2 separate regions of the Homo sapiens genome follow, and region 1 is linked to region 2. The links come from fine-mapping of genetic effects on gene expression. A gene starts in region 2. The other region holds a variant in brackets. All regions are shown on one strand. Distances are between the middles of the regions.

The links. PIP is the estimated chance that this variant, and not a neighbour inherited with it, causes the effect.
Region 1: its variant is fine-mapped to the expression of DDX43 in monocytes after R848 (Quach 2016, PIP 0.95).

What each region holds. Positions count from the first base shown.
Region 1 is chr6:72,651,671-72,657,056 of GRCh38, forward strand. All of the region lies in intron 1 of KCNQ5 (potassium voltage-gated channel subfamily Q member 5), which reads left to right. All of the region lies in intron 2 of KCNQ5-IT1 (KCNQ5 intronic transcript 1), which reads left to right. Among named protein-coding and RNA genes, the nearest start is that of KCNQ5-IT1, 24 kb to the left of the region's middle. The variant T/C (reference allele first, on the strand shown) is at 3,375.
Region 2 is chr6:73,392,835-73,398,220 of GRCh38, forward strand. It overlaps DDX43 (DEAD-box helicase 43), which reads left to right and starts at 1,994. Exons shown (of 17, transcript NM_018665.3): 1 at 1,994-2,321; 2 at 4,855-4,910. The coding sequence starts at 2,072. It overlaps LOC124901538 (small nucleolar RNA U13), which reads right to left and starts at 1,179; the gene lies at 1,079-1,179. It also overlaps a transcript of OOEP not described here. RefSeq lists an enhancer at 1,611-2,111.

The sequences.
Region 1 (5,386 bases), 740 kb before region 2:
TTGTGAAAATAAACGGCTGAGTATACTGGAACAATCTTAATTCTGTTGAACTCCTTAAAATGATATTACATATCAAAGAGTACACCTTTAAACTACTAATGGAGGAAAATAGAATAACTCAAGGAGAGCAAGCAGACAGCTGGAATTTTTGGGAAATGTCTGTGGTATTTGGGTTTATTTTTAAGGGAAAGAAAAATTTCCCATTAAATTTTATAACACAATAACACTTTTAAAACTTATACTCAAAAAGAATCTTTATAATGCTGTTGTAAAACTCAGATTATATTTTATTCATGAATTACAGATTTCTTTTTTGATGACGGTGGTTAGGGTAAGAAGCGGCTTTTATAAGCTTTATTTATCTCTTTTAATTACCTCCTTCTCCTGTCTCAATGCTCACACTTACACTCACTTTAAAAAATTTTTATCTTTCATGGGATCTATATCTAAATAACACCACATCATATGTAAATTAAGAAACATTCCAAATATTCTCCGGGACATTGAAAGGAAATCAAGCAAAACATTCTGTAATGTGTAGGCAACTTTAAAAGTGCTTGAGGCAGAAGCAAAAAAAAAAAAAAAAAGTGAGAGAAAGAGGCTTTCTAGCCTGTGTCTTTTTTAGTTAGATGTTTCAGAAGATGAAGAAATTTTAATTATGTGCTTCCTTAGAGTGAGATATTAATTCCTCTGAATCATTCTCTCCAATTTTGAGTCCCACTCTCATTTTTCTCTCCCTCTTCTTTTCTCCTGGTTTTTCCCCCTCCCTCTTTACCTTTTCTCCTCCCTCTTTTTCCTCCCTCCCCTTTCCTTCTCCCACAAAAAGCCAGAATTGCTTGGTGGTAATTCCCTAGAATTGAGCAGGATTGAACTGGGGGTCACTCTGGCTTTGTACTGTTCCCTTTCTTATCTAACCTGAATATCCTTGGATCTGTAAGACTTTTTCTGATCCATATCACAGCCTTTTTCTCTCCTCACCGTTGCCAGTGGGATTTCTCGTGGGCTTTTGGAGAGGTAGAAGGCATACTTGTGAATGTCAAAAGAGCTGTATTCCTGTATCCTGTTTCAACCCTGAGGAGAGGCACTGTGCTAGTGAGGAAAGAACACCCAATCCTAGTCAAAGGACTGAGTTCAATTCAGCCTCACAAGAGGCTCTAAGTATGATCTTAGACAAGGAAACTTCAGGCCCCAGTTTTCCCATCTAGAAAATGAGAGTGGTTAGAACTATATCACACTGAGGATTATGTGAATTTATATATACGTATATAAAGCCGTGCACCCAAATGCTGTTTACAGCATTCTGTGATGAATTCCCTATTTCAGTTGGTACCATTTATTCACAGACAATCACAGGTATTCAGAGATTGTAAGAATTATGGTAGCAATTGCTTACTATAGTTTGTTTATTCCATAAGAGTGGCTTTCATTTTTTTTTAAAAAAGAGACCTCTCCCTTGGATTTTCGTTATAATATGTTTCACTTGCCACATTTTCTGAATTTTTCCATGTCTTGAAGCCTTTGTGATGGTGTTTCATAATCAACCTGCAGGTTGTCAGAATCAGTGGAGCATGCCATTTACTGCTTGTCTTAGATACACTCAATGATTCTTTCTTTCCTGAGTGCTTCAAGTTTTGGCTTTAAAGATCCTCCTTTGTTTTAATAGATTTTCCATTAGTGTCTGCTTATGTAATTTTATCTCCATTTCTAATTGTGAAATTTGTTGCATAGATGTAAATTTTCTTTCAGTATTATTCAGAGAGAAGATAATGGTTGATACCCAAAAGAGGAAGCTAAAAATGCCTTTTAAAATTCTTACTATATTTTGGTGATTTTTACCAATGACATTATTGTATAGTTGTGGTCATTATACCGTTCATTAAAAATATTTATTTGAAATTACTGCATGAATGCCAATCTCTGAATAACATCTTTGCAAATATAGCATGTTATTTTGTCAGTCCAAATGTGTGCTAAATACTAATTCATGTTGTTAAATGTGGATATAAAAATAGTTAATTCTCTTGCTAAGGATACTCATTTATCAAAGTAAAGTAACATTTTAATATTTTTCAAGACAACTATTTTTAAATATTTATTAGAGAAACTGTTCTAGGAGAAAAATTAAGATAAGGTATTATGTATTTTACTCTGTTATGGACACATACATATTTGGATATCAGATAGTTTCATATCAAATTACATATCTTTGTACTCAATAAATATTAGAAAAACTGTTTACTCATCTGTAAAATATAAATAATAGCATCTTCTCATTGAGTTACTTTGAAAATAAATAAAAATAATACCTATGTACAGGACTTAACCTAGTGTCTACCATAATGTAAGCACATAATGAATACTTGATACTGTGATTGAGTACATGCTATGACTATAACCCAGAATAAGACAATAGGAACATAAAAATAGAAATGATCATCATTTTAGATAGGGGAAAACAGAAGGGAAATACAGAGAAATGACATCATTGTGTTTGAGACCATATGGTATCAGAATTGGAATAGAAGGAAACTGGAGTTGGGGGAGGGAACTGGAAGAGTGTTGGGGGTTTGGGAATGAAGAGGTGATACTAAGTTGTGTTTGGGAATATATTGGATTTAAAGTGATAGAAAGTAATTGTAGTGAAGATGGACTGTAGTCATCTCATGAATTGGACCAGAACTTTAACATTGTTCATTTAGTTTTCCAAGAGATATTTACTGTGGGCCGATACTATGTGCTAGATACTGTGCATTGGTACAGTAACCAAGGTACAGTAAACCAAGGATGGAAATACATAAATTTGTGAGTCGGTTTTCTGAGTGAAAGTTAGAAATAAGGAACAATGTACTAGGCATGAAGTGTTGGTTAGTGATTACAAATAGGAGAGGAGAAAAGAAAAGTCCCCAATGACACAAGACTAGAGGCTGAAGACATATCAAGAGAGTGCTGCACGAGGGGAGAAGACAACTTTAAGACATTGTGATTTCCAGAAGAATCACTTTTATATAAATTGAATGCTTTCTAGAGCTTAAGATCATTCTTATATGTTTCAGTAACAGAAAATGAAGATAAAGATAGATTATTCTTGGCTTTTTACCTATTTACACATGAAAATGATTACATACATCTACTTATTCTAGTGTGATATTATTTTCATTAAAATAAAGGTATTGAAGGAATTGTTCAATGAACAAAGAAAACTGTACTTTTGACTAAATTGTAATTAAGTATGCTTGAACATTTTTAAATGCTTAGTTCTGTAATTTTCTGCACAACATGTAGTAAACCAGACATATTTCCAATAAACACTGCTTACCTTCTTTTTGTTTCCATGTTTAATAGCCAAGGTCTGTCTGTCTTTCTTTCTTTCTTTC[T/C]TTCTTTCTTTCTTTCTTTCTTTCTTTCTTTCTTTCTTTCTTTCTTTCTTTCTGTTTTTCTTTCTTTCTCTCAGAAAAGAAAAAACAAGCCTTGGATTCTTGTTTCAGTAGCTATGTGCAAACAAAATGGAAAAAAAAAAAACAGAGAAAAATCCTCCACAATAAATCGTAATGGACATATAATCTGTATAACACAAAACTTAGTCACCAAAGGATACTTGAAATGCTGCTAGATCAGTTCAAATCAGCAAATATGTATTGACTTCCCATTTTTTAGCACTATGTTAGGTGCTACAGACCACAAGCTCACAGTCTTCAAATTAAGGAGACAGTTATATAAATGATATAAAGGAGAATCTGTCCATCACAGTGAGACATCCAAATGGCTATGAAGATTCCAAGGAGAGACAGAGCATCTGGTTGAGAGAGAGCAAGAAGAAATTCCTAGAGAAAGTGGAATTAGAGAGGAACGGGGAGTAAGAAATGAGAGTAATGCCAGGCTCCGGATGAGGAACAACATGGGCAAAGACATGGAGACAAGCTTGGTGTGTGGTGTTCCTAGGAAATTATTGTCCTGTTGACTGAAGAAAAAGGGACATAAAAGTGGAAGACTGATAGGAGATTTGGATAGAGAGGAATATGTCGGGACATACTGTGAGTGCTATCATGAGGAAATTCGGATTGATTCAATAGGCAATGAAGAGCCATTAATGGATTTTGAGTAGGGGAATAACATTACTGGAGCAGCAATTTAGAAGACTGATTTGACACCAATGCATAGTATATTCTGGAATGAAGACAAATGGCAATTGGAGAAACTGGCTGGGAACTTATTGTTATAGTTTAGCAGTTAATGAAAGTCTGAACCAGCATGGAATGAAAATGAAAGAATCTATATATGGGTCTTCCAAGATGCAGATATTCAGGAACATTCCATACATCCAAAGTTTACATCTGTATAGTATTTTAAATTTCCATTTGCCCTCAGATATTTGGCACAGATCTGAGAGTAACCTTATTGGCACAGGTGATTCTCAGCTGCAGAGTACCACTTTTGTCTGTATTAATGGTGTCTTCTCTTCTTTACAAGGCCACCAAAGTGGATGCATAATTAAAATTTGTTGCTGTTTCTACTCTACTTGTCCTGGACGCTCATGCAGCCAAATTTCACTGGGGACCCAGGACCACACAAAACAGTATGGTGTTATGAACTGGTTGCCCCAGGAGTTTTAGAAAGTCTTCTTAATTACTTTAAAAAGGCAGCAGCTCTCCTCACCCACTGTAACTTGAACGTTGCATGTTTGGCCTCTAGGATCAGTCCTCAAATGCATCTCTACCTAGTATTCCATCAGGAGCAATTGGTATATTTGAAAATGTATTGCTTTATTTAATTTTCATGAAGCTCAGTTTCCCACATAGTAAAGACAATAATCTCTGAGCAAAAATAATTTCAGTTATTCTTATCACATTGTCTATTCATCTATTATATCTTTGCAATATTAAAATGCATTTAATTATAATAAAACATTTAACACAAGTAACTGGAAAACAAAAATCTTTCTCAACTGATTATTCTTAGTCTTGCTTTTATCTCCCTTTTACCTAATAAAAGCAAATTTAGTTTTCTTCATTTATGAATCCAATAAACATCATAGACTCAACTTCCTGATATTTATGCTCTATGAGGGTTTCTCCACCACACAAATTTATGTCCACTGAGAGCATCTTATCTCTGGCTCTGACACTTTTGGCCTGGAACTAATCACTGCCATTGACCATTGCATCTGGGATGCATTAGACTCTGTCCCTAGGTGCTTCAAGATTTTATTGTACAACACCATTTAACAAATTATTTTATTAATAACCCAAACCCTGTGAATCAAGGTACATTTTAAAGCCTAATAAAATTATGGTTTGGGAGGCCAAGGTGGGAGGATCACTTGAAGCCAGGAGTTTGAGACCAATCTGAGCAGCACAGTGAGACTCCATCTCTGCAAAAATAAAAAATAGAA
Region 2 (5,386 bases):
TTGGCCAGGATGGTCTCGATCTCTTGACCTTGTGATCCAGCCGCCTCTGCCTCCCAAAGTGCTGGGATTACAGGCATGAGCCACCACATCCAGCCAATATTTTTTGCATTTTTATTAGAGATGGGGTTTCACCATGTTGACCAGGCTGGTCACGAGCTCCAGACCTCAAGTGATCTGCCTGCCTCACATTCCCAAGGTGCTGGGATTACAGCCATGAGCCACACCATGCCTGGCCTGGTGTCCACTGTGTTTGATGGATGATTGAACTGAAAAAAAAAAAATTTTTTTTTTTTGAGACAGGGTCTCTGCTCTGTTGCCCAGACTGGAGTGCAGTGACACCATTTCGGCACTTCGGCTCACTGTAGCCTCAACCTCCCTGGCTCAGTGATCCTCCCACCTCAGCCTCCTGAGTAGCTGGGACTACAGCCTGTACCACCACACCCGGCAGGGTCTCACTATGTTACCCAGACTGATGTTGAACCTTGGGGCTCAAGAGATCCTCCGCCTAGGCCTCCTAAAGTGTTGAGATTACAGGTATGAGTTATCCCTGCTGGCCTAAACTGAAATTTGTTCAGATAATTCAAAGATCCTAATCAAAGGAGTGCACTTGCAGCTGGCTTGAAGCCCTGGAGTAGTAGTATGTCCAGCCACAGAGCCAGGCTGCAGTGACGGTAATGCTTCAGGAATCTATTCAATTTATTTCCTTAGCTCTAAAATTATGGCAGGCCAGGCACTGTGGCTCATACCTGTAATCCCTCAACTGTGTGAGGCCAAGGCAGGAGGAGTTGGATACCAGCCCGGGCAACATAGGGAGGTCTTGTCTTTACAAAATAATTAGCCTGGCATGGTGGTGCACACCTGTAGTCCCAACTATTCGGGAGGCTGTGGTGGGAGTATCACTTGAGTCCAACAGGTCGAATCTGCAGTGAGTGATCGCACCACTGCACTCCAGCCTAGGCGACAGAGGTCAAAAACAAAACAAAAGAAAACAAACAAAAAAAACATAGCAAACATCCAGAAGACTGTGTAGAGCAATGAATGTCTCTCAAGCCAGTGATCTTTTTCTCTTCATTTTTCACATCAGGTGGGTAGTGTGCCCACTTCGTAACAAGGTTTGAGGGAGGCACATTTGACACAAGAGCATGAAAACCCAATCACACTTATGACTTACAAAAGGATCAAGTCAGTGATCTTTAAGCTGTGGGCCATTAAATACATTTTGTGAGCCGAGTGCAGTGGCTCAGGCCTGTAACCCCAGCACTATGGGAGGTGGAGGTGGGAGGATCACTTGAGTCCAGGAGTTCAAGACCAGCCTTGGGCAACATACTGGGAACTCCCATCTCTATTAAATTTTTTTTTTTTAATTTTGTGGATTACAACCATTTCAAAAACTAAAATAAGCGTAAATGTATCAAAATGCAGCTTACATAGCGAGGATAAATGCTGTTTTGTCAATCTGTTGTTTCAAGTTTTTTATGTGTGGATTGGGTCACCTTGTAACAGTGACTTACCTTTATGGGTCACGGTTGAAAACATTTCCGGTGCAGTGGCTGACTGTAATCCCAGCACTTTGGGAGGCCGAGGCTGGAAGATCACTTGAAGCCAGAAGCCAAGAGTTCAAGACCTGCCTGGGCAACACGGCGACACCCCGTCTCTATTTAAAAAGAAAAAAAAAAGTTTCCAAGGCACTGAGATGCCAGGAACCCGAGGTGTGTGTCCAGTAGGGGAGGGAGCAAATTGGGCGTTTGGAAAAAGTCCCACGCCTGGAAAGGAATACACAGTGGGGGGGTGGGGGGCGGGGCACATCGACTACTTCAAGGCACACTCCCACGGTTCAGAAAACCGATTGGCTAAAACTGGGAAAGTCCCGCCCACAACGCTCACTGGCCAATGGCTGCGTGAAATCAGTGCGAAGTGGGCGGGATAGAGAGCGTGGGCGGGGGGGCTAGCCTCGTGCGGGCTCCTTAAGTAGCGGCTGCGTGGCTTCCCTGGCACGCTACTCTTACGACGTCACGGTCAGGTGGTGCAGAGCTGGACGGCAACGACGTCGGACGCGCCCCTTCTTGGAACAATGTCCCACCACGGAGGAGCTCCCAAGGCCTCTACGTGGGTCGTTGCTAGTCGGCGAAGCTCGACAGTGTCCCGAGCGCCAGAGAGGAGGCCGGCGGAGGAGTTGAATCGAACAGGTCCTGAGGGATATAGTGTCGGCAGAGGTGGTCGCTGGAGAGGCACCTCTAGGCCCCCGGAGGCCGTGGCCGCTGGTCACGAGGAACTGCCGCTGTGTTTTGCTTTGAAGAGCCACTTTGTTGGCGCGGTAATCGGTGAGAATGGGAGTGGCTGGCAGGGCAGGATAGGTGGGGCCAGGGGCGGAGCCTGGGCGAAGGCATTTCCTCCCCACTGCCTCACCTCCAATCAGCTGCCACCTAGTGAGGTTCAGGTCTCTCCCAGAGCTATTTGTAAAACCTGGGGATAGAGTATAATTTAATCTGGCCGGGCGCGTTGGCTCACGCCTGTAATCCCAGTATTTTGGGAGGCCGAGGCGGGCGGATCACCCCAGGTCAGGAATTCGAGACCAGCTTGGCCAACATGGCAAAACCCTGTCTCTACTAAAAATATATATATTAAAAAAAATAGCTGGGCGTGGTGGCGCGCGCCTGTAATCCCAGATACTCCGGAGGCTGAGGCAGGAGAATGGCTTGAACCCGGCGGCAGAAGTTGGCAGTGAGCTGAGATCGCGCCACTGCACTCCAGCCTAGGTGACAGAGCAAGACTCCGTCTCAATTAAAAAAAAAAAAAAAAAGTAATTTAATCCACCTTTTGGTGTTTATACAGACAATGTATTTGGGAGAGCAACTCCTAGAAGACTTATGAAATCTTAGGGCTGAAGAGGGATGCTTAGAACAGGCCTTTTAACAGACAGCTAACCCCAGAATGAAAAACAAAACTTAATCAGTCTTTCTATGAGTACCATTTAGAGCCAGAAATCAAAGAAAAGCTATAAGGTCATTGTAGGGCTGCCTAGAGCAGTTGTATCTTGCTTTTAGTTTCCTTAATTTTTAAAAAGTTAAAAACTTTTCTTACTACATCTTGAGTGTTAACATTCAATTCTGAATTTTTAATTTTTTTCTTTCTTTTGATTTTTTTTTTTTTTGAGGCAGCTCTGTGGCCCCAGCTGGAGTGCAGTGTGGCGTGATCTCGGCTCACTACAACTTCCACCTCCCGGGCTCAAGCGATTCTAGCACCTCAGCCTCCCTAGTAGCTGAAATTACGTGCGCCACCACACCTGGCTAATTTTTGTGTTTTTAGTAAAGATGAGGTTTCACCATATTACCCAGGATGGTCTCGAACTCCTGTGGATCCACCCACCTCGGCCTCCCAAAGTGCTGAGATTACAGGCGTAAGCCCGGCCCATTTCTGAATTTTTTTGAAAAGCATTTAAAAATGATTAGAATGATTACCCCATTGATTGCCATTAAGCCCGAGTATAAATTGCCACATTTTACCTATTAGGTGTATTTCACCCTTTTTAAAACCTGAGAAAAATGAATAGATGGAGGCTGCTACAAAATAGTGCATTGTAAGACTAATTGCTGTACTACCCAGAGACTCATTGGCCTTTCAGAAGGCTTGGGCTCAGATCTGAAGAATGATGCTCCAAGAAAGAAAGCCACTAGGTTTGCAATAAAAATCACTTAAGTTAATACTTAGCAGATGAAAGGGCACTGTGCTACAGAGCACTCACTTGATGTTGGATCTGGATCCATCTTTTTTATTGTAAAAAATGAAATACCCTCTTTTAAACGTATATCACAATACTAATAATAAGCACAATGTTGTATCCCAGATCTCTGGAACTTGCATGACTAAAACTGTATACTCATTGAACAGCTCCCCATTTTTTCCTGCCCCATCCCAGGGACCCACCATTTACATTGTTTCTGAGTTAGATTACTTTAGGTAATCCATATAAGTAGAATCATGCAGTAATTGTCTTTGTAATTGGCTCATTTCTCTAAGAATAATATCCTCCAGGCTTACCCATTTTGTAGCATGAGACAGGATTTTTTTCCTTACTAAGGCTGAATGGTATTCCATTATTAAGTATATACCTTACTTTATCTATTAATCAGTCTATGATAAATGGGTAGCTTCCACCTTTTGATTTCAGTAGTGTTATTATGAAAATGGAAGTGCAATATATCTTTGAGACTCAGCTTTAAATTCTTTTGGATGTATACCCCAAGTGAGACTGCTGGATCATATGTTAATTCTGTTTTTAATTTTTTAGTTAATCTATACTGTTTTCCATAGTGGCAGCACCATTTTCAATCCCACCAACAGTACACAGGGGTTCCAATTTCTCCACATTCTTACCAACACTTTTTTTCTGTTTTTGATAATGGTCATCCTACCAGATGTGAGGTGACAATCATTTTGTGGTTTCGATTTGCGTGGACCTGATTAGTGATGTTGAACATCTCATGCCTGTTGGCCATTTGTATGTCATTGGAGAAATGTCTATTCAAGTGTTTGCCCATTTTTCAAAACTTATTTGTTGAGTTGTATGAAAGAGTTCCAATTTCTACATCCTCTCCACCAGTTTGGACCCAATTAAGTTTTGTGCAAGCTGATACAGAATCCATAGTCTCCACCTGTCTGGGATAAGAGTCTCCTAAAACCCACCAAAATTTGGAATAGAACCTCTTACTTCCCTCTTTCCAAACAAAAAATGATTGTTGAACCCTAGGAGCATTTGGGGGGAAGAACTAGAGAATGTTTGTTGAGGAAAATGGGTAAATTTTCAACTTACTAATTTCAACTTATAACAATATATTCCTTTATTTTTAAAAACAGGTCGTGGTGGGTCAAAAATAAAGAATATACAAAGTACAACAAACACCACAATCCAAGTAAGCCATCTGTGTTTTTCGGCCCTTAAGAGAGCATCATGCATTTCTAAGGGAGCACCTAACTCTACTTTTCTTTTTAAGACAGCCTCATTCTGTCTCCCAGGCTGGAGTGCAGTGACGTGATATCAGTACAACCTCTGCCTCCTGGGTTCAAGCAATTCTCCTGCTTCAGCCTCCTGAGTAGCTGGAATTACGGGTTCCCACCACCAAGCCCAGCTAATTTATTTTATTTTATTTTTTTATTTTTAGTAGAGACGGGGTTTTACCGTGTTGGCCAGGCTGCTCTCAACTCCTGGCCTCAAGTGATCCACTTGCCTTGGCCTCCCAAAGTGTTGGGATTACAGGCATGAGCCACTGCACCAGGCCTTAACTCTAATTTCTGCTGAGTTATTAACATACTAGGGTAAATTAGGTAAGTTGCCAAAGTTCTTCATACTCCTTATTCTCAAGAAGCCACCTGAATTTTAAGCTGTTCC